Linked DNA regions of Homo sapiens. The protein of the gene in region 1 purifies or fractionates together with the protein of each later gene. This does not show direct contact. Each region holds a gene or a part of one and is shown on either strand. Other genes may lie near its edges. The genes, in order: ARHGEF39 and KCTD12.

What was found.
Region 2: the proteins of ARHGEF39 (region 1) and KCTD12 purify together in Homo sapiens (co-immunoprecipitation; 2 studies listed by BioGRID and IntAct, with this or other methods). This does not show direct contact.

Annotation. Positions count from the first base shown.
Region 1 is NC_000009.12:35,662,196-35,669,711, forward strand, and holds the start of ARHGEF39 (rho guanine nucleotide exchange factor 39), read right to left. Parts: upstream 3,001-7,516; 5' UTR 2,975-3,000; coding exon 2,837-2,974; intron 2,656-2,836; coding exon 2,561-2,655; intron 2,298-2,560; coding exon 2,177-2,297; intron 1,932-2,176; coding exon 1,813-1,931; intron 1,198-1,812; coding exon 1,127-1,197; intron 880-1,126; coding exon 751-879; intron 547-750; coding exon 317-546; intron 73-316; coding exon 1-72. UniProt on the Homo sapiens protein: Promotes cell proliferation.
Region 2 is NC_000013.11:76,879,675-76,883,170, forward strand, and holds the end of KCTD12 (BTB/POZ domain-containing protein KCTD12), read right to left. Parts: 3' UTR 501-3,496; downstream 1-500. UniProt on the Homo sapiens protein: Auxiliary subunit of GABA-B receptors that determine the pharmacology and kinetics of the receptor response. Increases agonist potency and markedly alter the G-protein signaling of the receptors by accelerating onset and promoting desensitization.

The DNA.
Region 1 (7,516 bases):
ACTGTGGTACCAGCGTGACAGCTCCTCCTGGTCTGTGGACATAAGCAGTAGCTTCTCATGAGGGAAGGACAGCTAGAGAGAGACCACCTCTTAGCGCATGGCTCAGAAAGGTCCAGGCTAAAGCTGAAGCCCTTGCTGTTTCCATGGAGCTAATTCAGGGATGAGACAATGACTAGGTATGAAGCCCGAGCCCCAGCTATCCTCTCTCAATGTAGATGGCTCTGTTCCTATGAAAAGGGACCCAGACCAGGGAGATAAACCAGCCCATAAGCATCTGAGACATATTTTGGGTCTAGGGTTCCCACCTATTACTTACACTGAGCAACCCACCACAAGGGCCTCCTGAGTGGCCAAAGACCCTGCTGAGATGACACTGGGCCATGGGGTAGAGGGCCTTGCAGGCAAAGGTGCCACTCCGCAGCAGGTGCAGTGGAGGCCGAGGCTTGGCCATGAGGAGCACATCAGTGAAGAGGAAGAACATGCGGGGCCGAGGCTCCCCATGGGGAGGCACCACTAACAGCCAGCCCTGGCGTAGGAACCAGCGCCCTGGGGGATGGGAGCGCTGTTATTCTGGTGCAGCTTCAAGATACATGGGAATAAGAGGAAAGGGAGGCTGAGAAAATAGGGGTTATGTGCTGGGTCAGTACAGGAAGAAGGGTGAGTAAGAAAAGAGCAGCTGGTCGGCATTTGGAGTTAGATAAAAATAAAAGATGGGGCAGTTGAGGATTGAAGGGGAAGTAGGCAAGCTACCTGAGGTCAGCCCCTTTGCCTGGCGTCCACTGAGCAGAGCCTGGACACGCCGAAGGTGCTGGTCATTCTTCTGTTTCTGACCAATAGTATGGACTCTCTGGGCAGTCTCACTTATCAGTCGGGCAGCCCCTGGAATAACATCTCCCACCTTACTCCCCATACAACTTTGACTTTGGGTGCCATGGTTGTGAAAGAGGTTATTCTGGAAGGGACCAGGGTCAGGGTCTGACTTCTTGAAGAAAAGGCAGAGCAGTAGGGACACTGTATACATGTCAGTGGAAGATAGGGTCATACCAGACATTGTTGGAGGTCAGAATCAGAAAGGAATACAGGAGAGGAAGCCTCCAGCCTGCGTTGCCGAGGAGCAAGAACCTACGTGTGAGCTGTTGATGGTCAGGGCTGTTGGGACCTGTGTTTTCAGCCAAAGCTACGACGAGATTCTCATACCTGGAATTCAACAGTGGGAAGTCTGAGGGGAAGCAGAGCCAGGCAGAATTCCCCCTGCCTGATGTGCAGATCACCCTCTACCCATACTTCAATTGAAGGCCAGGAAAGATCTGCTTCTGGCTACTGTATCCCCTTCTTTCATGTAGGACTCAGAACCAGGCTCACACCACACAGCCCTCTTCCATCCCACACTGAAGAGTCACTGGCAGACTAGCCATACTTCAGGAGGCCAGATTGGAAGATGAAAGTTTATCAACCCAAGGAGGATGCTACAGACAGCCTGACTATAGCCCTTAACTCAGGCTTAACCCAGAGACAGAAATTCTAACCCAGGCCAGCCCCGCATCTGAAACTTTTCCAGAAACCGTGCCTCAGGCCCTAGTACAGGCCCCCTCACTTCAATTTAAAGTTCCACAGTTCCAGCTGAGGGCCTCAGGCTGCAGACCCTGGGTACTCCAATGGGTTCACATTTACTCTTGCAAAAGGTTTTTAGAAGCAATTTGGCTCAGGGTCGAGGCAAGAGTTTGGGATCGACCCCAAGGCATCCCACAAAGCTGAGGGCAGCAGTCATACAAACTAAAAGAGAGAGGCGGCTGGAATCAAGAGTTCACTCACTGCTGGAGCCGTTGCAGAGGCAGAGGGAGCAGGTCCTGGAGCTGAAGGCCCCCAAACTCAGGGCGGCCTTCCTGAAGCCGTACAAACCTCCGGAAACCTTTATTTTTCTTTAGCTGCTCCTGGAGTGAGGGAGAAAGGATTGGAAGCAGGGAGAGAAGCCACTCCTTATATTGCATTCATCTGTATCCACATTCCCAGCCTTCAGTAAGCTGTGCTCCTGAGAGAAACTCTCGTTTCTCTACAAGGAACTTACCACAGAGCTGAGCACCCAGAGGGCTCTATAAATGCAGGAAATGTATGAAGTTTGGGTCTCCAGATGAAGGGGAAAGGTAAGGGGCAAGATTTGAGGTCATCTCCAGGTTACCTGCAGGGTGGTCTGGGACCTCTCTGAGTTGGCAGCAAATTGGTTATAGAGCTCCAAGTGGCGGCAGAAGCCCTCCAGCCCTTGGCCCCAGCATCCTCCTTCCAGGTAGGGAAGCAGCTCCCTGTGTGGGCAAGGACAGCAAAAGGGCAGCTCTAGAACCACTCAAGCACCACCTCATTTAGTTTTCATGAGAATAGCACTAATAGTAGTGCTATTACCCCATTGTACAGATGGAGAACAAGGGCATGCTAAGGCCCTGGGCCAAGGCCACAGGTGAGCTAACTGGCGGACTCCAAATAGAACCTAAGTCTGACTCCAAGCTCTGTGCACGGCCACAGGCCAGGACTCTCCCTCCTTTCCTCTCCCTGTGCCCCTTCCACTCACTGGCTGGCGCCGTAGATGAGCTCCCAGGAGCCAAACAGGGCCTGGCGCTCAGGTGGTCGCAGGGTCCCCTTGGCTTTCAGGATCCCCAAAAAGTACTGCGGAAGGAGAGAACATTGGTTCTTAGCCTAGAGGAAGAGAAGGCTAACGCCAAGCGCCCCCAGAAACCGCAGAAGTCTGCCCAGGCTCCCTACATGCTCCGGGTTACCGACCTCGCAGAGACCCTCCCACACCCTGGGGTCCCTGTCCTATAATGGGAGCGTGTGCCAGGTCCCCCACCGTGGCCACCAGCCCCAGCTGTTCTTGGTAGCGCCGCTCGGTCTCTAGCAGCTCCCGGGCGGTGCAGGCGCGTTTCCGCTCCCAGCGGGCACGCTGCTCTTGCACCGGGCACCGCGAACCGGGGCAGGAGAGCTCCATGCCCTGGCTGAGGGATCGACACTTCCGGCTGCAGTCCGCGGCAGATTCAAATCCCAACCGCTCGCGGGCGGGAGCCGCGGAGGCGGGGCCGGGGAGGGCAGCGCGCAGGAAGGAGCATGCGCGGCGAGCGGCCGGACCGCGCAGGGTCTCTTCTGTCCAGCCCCACCGCCAGAGCGGCGCTTTAGGTGCGCGGCGCCGGCCAAGGCAGGGCAGGGCAGGGCAAGGTTGGGGGCAGGTGTGGAGCCCTCCTCTGAGTGGCACTATGTTGGAGCAGCAGCCTGAACTTTGAGTCAGGAGACGGGCTGCAGATGCTGGCAGGAACTTAATGTCCTATCTGGAGAATTGGGACGGGGGGCGGTCATTACAGTACACATTCTGTCCTGGGCCCATGCCAAATGCCAGGGGGTCAGTTGTTCCCAGAATTGGCTAGGAAAAGGTATAGCCATTTGAAGGAATGATATGAAAGTATTAAAAATGGTGTTGTAAAGAAGCTATCGATATGGGAAAACGCACATAGTAAGTATATTGCTGAGAGGAAAAAAAGCAGGCTACAAAGGTGTATAATATAATCCCCTTTGTATAAAACATATATAAAATGTTGGAAGGCAAAACAATCAAAAGTTAACTCTGTTGCCAGGCACGGGAGCTCACACCTGTAATTCCAGCACTTTGGGAGGCAGAGGCAGGAGGATCACCTGAGCCCAGGAGTTCGAGACTCCATCTCTCCAAAAAAAAAATAAATAAATAAAAAATAAAAATAAAAAGTTAACTGTGGTTTTTATCTCCGGGTAATGGAATTGAAGATAATGTGTTTAACAAATGTGTATTAAGTACCTAATCTGTATCTGTGCCAGGCACTGGATCACTGAAGCTAAAGGGATGAATGGGACAAACAGGGTGATTTTAAAAATTCTCTTATACTTCTGCCTTTCCCAAGTTTTCTACATTAAGCATGCATTACTTTGTAGTTAGAAAAAAAAAGTTATTAAAAAAAACAAAATGTCAGAAACTTTAGGCTCCCTCCCTACTGTTTTGGACTCCTAGGAATCTGGGCCGCAAGCCAAGAACCAGAGGATTGTCAGGGTTCTGAGGTCTCTACCACCTCCCCACCAGCTCTGACATTCTAAGAATTCTAAGAAAGGAATAATGCTGGGCTTAGACCAGGGAGGAATAACTTGAAGGGCTTGGATGAAGGAAGGGGAGAGTTTGGATCAGACTGTACCTTGGGCTTATGTCCCAAGGAAACTGGTGGTGATACCAGATAGGTAAAGGACTGGTTACACTGTCTCAAGTGAATGTGGGACAGTCCACACACTAAGAGCTCAAACATGGAAGAGGACAGATAATCCCATGGTAATTGGTGTCACTGTGAGCCCAGGTGATGAGAGTAGACCACAACACCTGGGGTGCAGTTGGTGATGGGTGTGTTTGTGAATGCTGCCAGTGTGTGTTAGTGCTTTGGGTGGGTGGAAGAGGGGTGGGGAATAGAGCCTCCTGTGAGCATCGGTTGGGGAATCATTCAACTCTAGAAGAGGAAGAGGGCAAAGCCGAGAAGACACACTGAAAACAGTTGGTGACAACTAATTCCCTGGGGACCGAGTCTCCCACAGAGCAAGTCAGGCACACCATACTCTACCTGGAACAGCTGCTAAACTCCGCTCCCACAGCCAAAGATAGGAGGGGCCAACAGGAGGAGGTTCAGAGGATAGTCAATAACCCCTTTATTCTTTAATTATCCTCAAATTTTGCTTTCAATCCGATGGATGCTGGAGAAGCACTAGGGATGCTTTGAACAACAATCATCAGTCATTCAACAAAATTAGGCTGGGCATGGTGGCTCACGCCTGTAATCCCAGCACTTTGGGAGGCTGAGGCAGGCGGATCACCTGAGGTCGGGAGTTACAGTTACAATGGCTGTGTGCTTCTTTATGTGTTGTCAGAGACCAGCCTGACCAATGTGGTGAAACCCCGTCTCTACTAAAAATACAAAATTAGCCGGGCATGGTGGCACGTGCCTGTAATCCCAGCTACTTGGGAGGCTGAGGCAGGAGAATCGCTTGAACCCAGGAGGCAGAGGTTGCAGTGAGCCGAGATCATGCCATCGCACTCCAGCCTGGGCAATAAGAGCGGAACTCTGTCTCAAAAAAAAAAAAAAATTAAATGCCAATCATGTGCCAGGTCCTGTGCTAGGCATGAAGATGAAATGGTGGGCAAGAGACATATGACCCCTGCCCACAGGGAGCTTACACTCCAGCATGGCAGATACAGTAAGGAGTCACCATAAAATGAGGAAACATTACAAGAGACATGTAGTCTTCTACACAAGCATGCAGTGAAGGGACTGATCCTAGTGTAGGAGTCAGGGAAGGCTTCTTCTCAAAGAAGTGATATGTGAACTGATGACCTGAAGGATGAATAAAACCTGGCTAGGCAGAGCTGGGCGCTGGCAGCAAGGGAAGTGGAAAAAAGAGTCAAACAGCATGGACAAAGGCTTGGACACACACATATGCAAGCATACGATGAATTTAAGGAACTGCTAGAAGTTCTGTAAGATGAGAGCATAGACTGCAAGGGAGAGAGTGATGACAAAGGAGACTGGAGAGGTAGACAGAGGCCAAACTTAGAAGGAATTTATATCAGTAAAATTGTGATATAAGTAATAATAAATTCAAAGTGGCTAAACATTAAGATAATTTATTGGCTCATGCAACTGAAAAGTCCAGAAGCAGGTGGGCCCTAGTGTTGGCCTAATCCAGCAGCTCAATCATGTTACCAAGGACCTCTTTCCACCACTCCACTGTGCCTTCCATGGTTTTACCTTCATCTTAAGGCTGGCTTCCATTGTGGGTACAAGATGGCTGCCCACAGTTACAATGGCTGTGTGCTTCTTTATGTGTTGTCCGCAGAGTTGGTTCCCTTAGCCATCAAATACTTCAGACAGAGAGCTTCACTGATTGGACCTCCCTAGGTCACAAGCCCACCATGGAAACCAGGGCAATGGCGGCCCTCTGAAGGCCACGTCAGGTACTGTGAACCTTATCCTAAGGGCAATGGGAAACCATTGAAAGGCCTTAAACAGGGAGTGAGATCATCAGATGTGCCATTTTAGAAACATCACTCTGGTTGGCTGGACTCAGCAAGACCCATCAGGAGGCAGTTGCAGTCATCCAGGTAAGAGGTGACGAAAGTATGAGCCAAGATGAAAAATGTAGATGAAAAATTTAGAAGGTAGAATCCATAGGGCATGGTTATTGAATGCTAGGGTGAAGGAAAAGATGAAAGTAGAGATGGTACCAGGTTTCTGGCTTCTAGGTGGAGGGTGGTGCTATTCACTGAAGGAGGATGAAAAGGAGATTTGCGGGGAAGACAAATTCAACCTGGGGCCTGTTAAACTTGAAATACTTGTGGGACATCCAAGTGGAGATGTCTTGGGTCTTGTCTATTAGGCAGATGGTTATGGGTCTGGCATGGGGAGAGAGTCCAGCCTGGGAATACTTGGGTGTCATCAATTTATAGGAGCCATGGGAGTGGATGACACGGCCTTGCAAAGATAAGTAGCAGGATAAGGGCAAAAGCATGAGAGTCTTCAATACGAACTCATCCCTTCTCATCCTGTGCGTCCACGTCAGTTCCCCTGCACTGATGGTGGACTAAATGGTGGCCCCATATAAAGACATGTCCATGTCCTAATCCCCAAGACCTGTATATGTGACCTTGTTGGGAAAAAGGGTCTTTGCAGACATAATTAGTTAAGGATCTTGAGATGAGATCATTCTGGATTATGTTGGTAGGCCCTAAATCCAATGACAAGTGTCTCAGTGAGAGACACCCAGTGGAGACACAGGGGCAAGAGAAGGCCATGTGAAGTTGGAGTAATGCAGCTACAAGTCAAGGAATGCCTGGAGCCGCCAGAAGCTAGAAGAGGCAAGGAAGGATTCTTCCCCAGAGCCTTCAGAGAGAGTCCAGTCCTGTCAAAACCTTGATTTCAGACTCTGGCCTCCAGAACTGTGAAAAAATCCATTTCTGTTGTTTTAAGCTACCCACTTGGTGGTAATTTGTTACAGCAGCCCTTGGAAATGAATATAGATGGGGAGGTAGCCAGAACTACAAGTCAGCCTCAAGGTTCTACAAGGAATTTGATCAGTCTTTGCCCCCAAGCTATGGCTTGGGAGAGGGAGCATTTTCCCTTCTACCCCACCAGTGAATAGTTTCCTCCTCTGCCATGCTGGGATAGGCAGAGACATGTTTTAGTAACATGACCCCTCAGTGTTTGAAAACACAAACCCTCATGAGCAAACACTTGGCCTATAATAACCACAGAGAGGTCCTGATCCAGGTGTGGGGTGCCCTGGTCAGTCAGTCCTGAGTATACTCTGTCCCAACCCGGGGAGACTCAGGAAACAATAACTCAAACCTGTTTGAGGGTTTGGCAGACTCCCAGCATGATCCAGGGTCAGAGTCCACATTCTCCACTCAGACCAGAGACGAGAGAGACAGAGAAACAGAGCCATAGGGAATCGCATTTGAAAAATGAGTGAGCTG
Region 2 (3,496 bases), on another chromosome or scaffold:
ATAACCCAGACGACTTGTTTCTGTGATTTCTCAATCTTAGCAGCACTGTGCCTTCTTTAGAGAGGAGGAACATCAACCACTAGAGATGAGGCAGTAAAGTGCCCCCACATCAAAAAATGCAGCTCCTCTTTCCCAACATTTTTTAGAACCTTCTCATGAACTGTACTTTTAAGTAAAGCACATCTCGAAGCTTCTATTTCCCTGTCCCTATACACAGCAAGTGGCATATGCTGCAGAGAAGTCAAAGAAAATGTTTGTGAAAAACATTTCTTCCATATTAAGTACCAGACCGCCTGGGCATTCTTGACAATAAACTCTGGGGAAAGAAGCTATTTGTGCTTGGTCCTGCTGGCCGGTTCCTTGGTGAAGAGTTCTGATGGCATAATGCTCAGCAGTAGTCCCACAATAATTTGGGAAGTGTTGCCAGTATTTAGAGAACCCCGTAAATGAAATTAGACCAGTGTTCAAGCCAATCCATGCCAAGGAGCCAAGAGGAATAATTAAAGGAGTGAATGTTTTATTCTTTAGTGTTTAATTGAATACATAACAAGTCACATAATCAATGATTCATTACTTCACACACAGGAAGGAAAACAGTAGCTAGTATTTCTGTTATACAACTGGTTGTGAACAGGAAGAACAAAAATCTTTATAGCATTAGATGGTTGAAGAAATTCTCAAAGTTTGGGCATGTCTGAAAAGACTTTGACTGCATCTTTTTTCAATATAAAGGGATTTTTTTCTTACATTTCTGTGTCATTAGAAAAATCTGATAATCTTATAAGATTTTTTCTGCTCTTCTTACATTTAGAGAAAATGGTTTAATGATATGTACTATTTAAAAAATCAGAATCCCAGATAACTCTGTGTGAATCTTACATTGTCTAGCAGATAAGGTTTTCAGATGCCTGGAAAAATTTAAACAACATATAATTTACATCTTCAAAATTAACATCCAGATGGATGTTTTAATCCTTTGTCACTAAATGGTTACTAACGCTGTTTGAGTGGTCATAAATGAATTGTCATTTGTATTCAATAGTAATAGCAAAATTTACCTGCCTATAAAGTCGCAAAAACAGTTGTATAATAGTTTACATTACAATTAATGTACCCATACCTCAAAACACATTTAGAATTTAAAAAAACTGGCTTGGAAAAAAATCACAAAAAATTTAAGTGACAACAAATCTTGATTAACTAGTCCATCTTCCTACCACACATGATTATACTCTAATGTAGATATTCTGGTTGAATTTCTTCCAACCAAGTTTGAAGGGCCCCAGTAGAAAATCAAGTGTTAATACTTTCAGATTTTTATTGTCCAAAACTGTTGACAAAGAAAAGCTAACTTCAACATAACTTGTTTCTGGCTATACAAAGACCTATTTCAGGTGCTACAGATACTGAAAATAGGAGTATTTTACTTATTTCTCAAGAGACAGACTTATGCCATCTAAGAAAATGAATTCAGTTTTTAAATGATTTATAGTAAGGAAAAACAGGAAAACAATTCCAAACGAAGGATTGACTCTGATAGGCTTACAACAAAAATATTCAGTTTACTATTTTAAAAACTAAATTGAGTAAAGTATTTGTGATTTAGACTATAAAATAAATTCTCAAGGAATTCAACCCCTCCAGTCAATACTTTTTCTTAATGTCTGCATTGTAATTTAGCATTTTGCATGTGGGAGTACACAAATGAATTGAATATTGGATCAGAATTTACCCTAACTTGAAGAGTAAAAAGTTATCAAAGTTTCACCTTACATGGCTTTATTGAAATAACATTCCATCGAAAATTCCAATAAAAATTGGAATATATTATGAGCACTGCCAATTGCTCATTTTGTCTGATATTAACAGATTATGCATTTCCTCAGAGAAGCAGTAGGTCCCATATATACAGACATATATATGGCTCTGGTTTGAAAGAGAAGACAATTTTGTCTAGTATTATGATTTATCACTGTGCTATCAATCAAAAACCAGTAGAATACATAACAACATTGAAAGGGAAAAATTTTTAAATCTCACATCTTCAAGGAATATTTTCTACAGCATATCATTTGAAAAAGTAGAATGAATACTGTTCATGGTCCACATGTATTAAAAAACATGTCAATTACTTGGTGCAAACACACAGAACCTGGTACCTGTTTTTTTTTTTTTTTTAACCACCATTGTCTACACCTTTTTAAAAATTAAGTTTGTTACTAAAAGTCCAATGTCATTCACTTGTATTTATGATCATCAAATGGTAATTAGGGCAACATATGTAAATGCATGCCTCTGAATCAGATTCATGCAGTGTTAATTATCTGAATAATTTATGACATTCTCCCAGGTTATTTGAATGGTATCTTTGGAGGGCTTACTCAAATGAACCCACAATACCTCCACTATTACAGCTTATAGGAAATTACAATCCACTTTACAGGCCTCAAAGGTTCATTCTGTGGCCCAAAGCCCATGGAGGGGAAGGGATCTAAAGGTGCTCATGTCAAGTTATTTTACTTGTTTTTTACTGTCTACCCAATGTAAAATGAATTTTCTTCACAGCCTTTACTTTAGGCTAAAAATAGACAGTTTTCTTGTATTGACTTTAACTTTAGAGGGGACAGTCGTCCCTGGAAAAAGAAGTAGATTTACTGTCCCTAACCATTAAATTCCCAGTCTTTCAAATAATGTGCGGGGCGGGGGGTGCTGGGTGTGACAGGGTGCAGTGAATAAGATGCCTATGTACAAGACAGTGGAATAGTTCACCTCAAAGGTTTACAAGATAACATTTGTAAGACTTGAGTGACAGAGGCAAAATTTTAGCAGTTTCTCAAGACTCTTGGAGTTGAGCAGATTTGAGAAGGGAAATCAGAATCGCCGAGCCTTGCCATCTGTCAGTGGTTTTGGTCTGTCCCAAGATGTTCTCAATCATGTGCTTCCTGTTGAACAATCTAACAAAATACCATACGGGGTAGAGAAATCTCTGCAACACTGACTTTTGGTCAGTGAATCAGAGTCCTAAATTATTTCAGGCTTCAAACAGATGAATTCTGATGCATTACTTAGTCTGAGACCAAACTCAACATACAAGCAAGCACAACTTCCTAGATTTCTGCTTCCATTTCGCCTAAAATTACAGGCTTTGTATATGAAGTCAATTTTACTTCTCAAAAAATGTTAGTCTAATAAAAGACCTGAAATCTATTTCCCAACTAAAAAAAAATTAGTGGATTAAAAATACAGGTACCTTGACTTTAAGTAGACAGTTAATCAACATATGATTAGTAATACAACTAATACTCAAGAAAAAAAGTATAATACAGCAAACTCAGTTTTACAATTATGTATTTTTTCCTAACCCAATTCCTCGATAAGGATGTAAGAAACTCATCAAAACATGTTGCTTTAGTATATAAACCAGCTGATGCAAATTACTGGGGTAATATAGGAAATTTTATAGCATTAGTAAATGAATTAAAAAACTAAATGATTC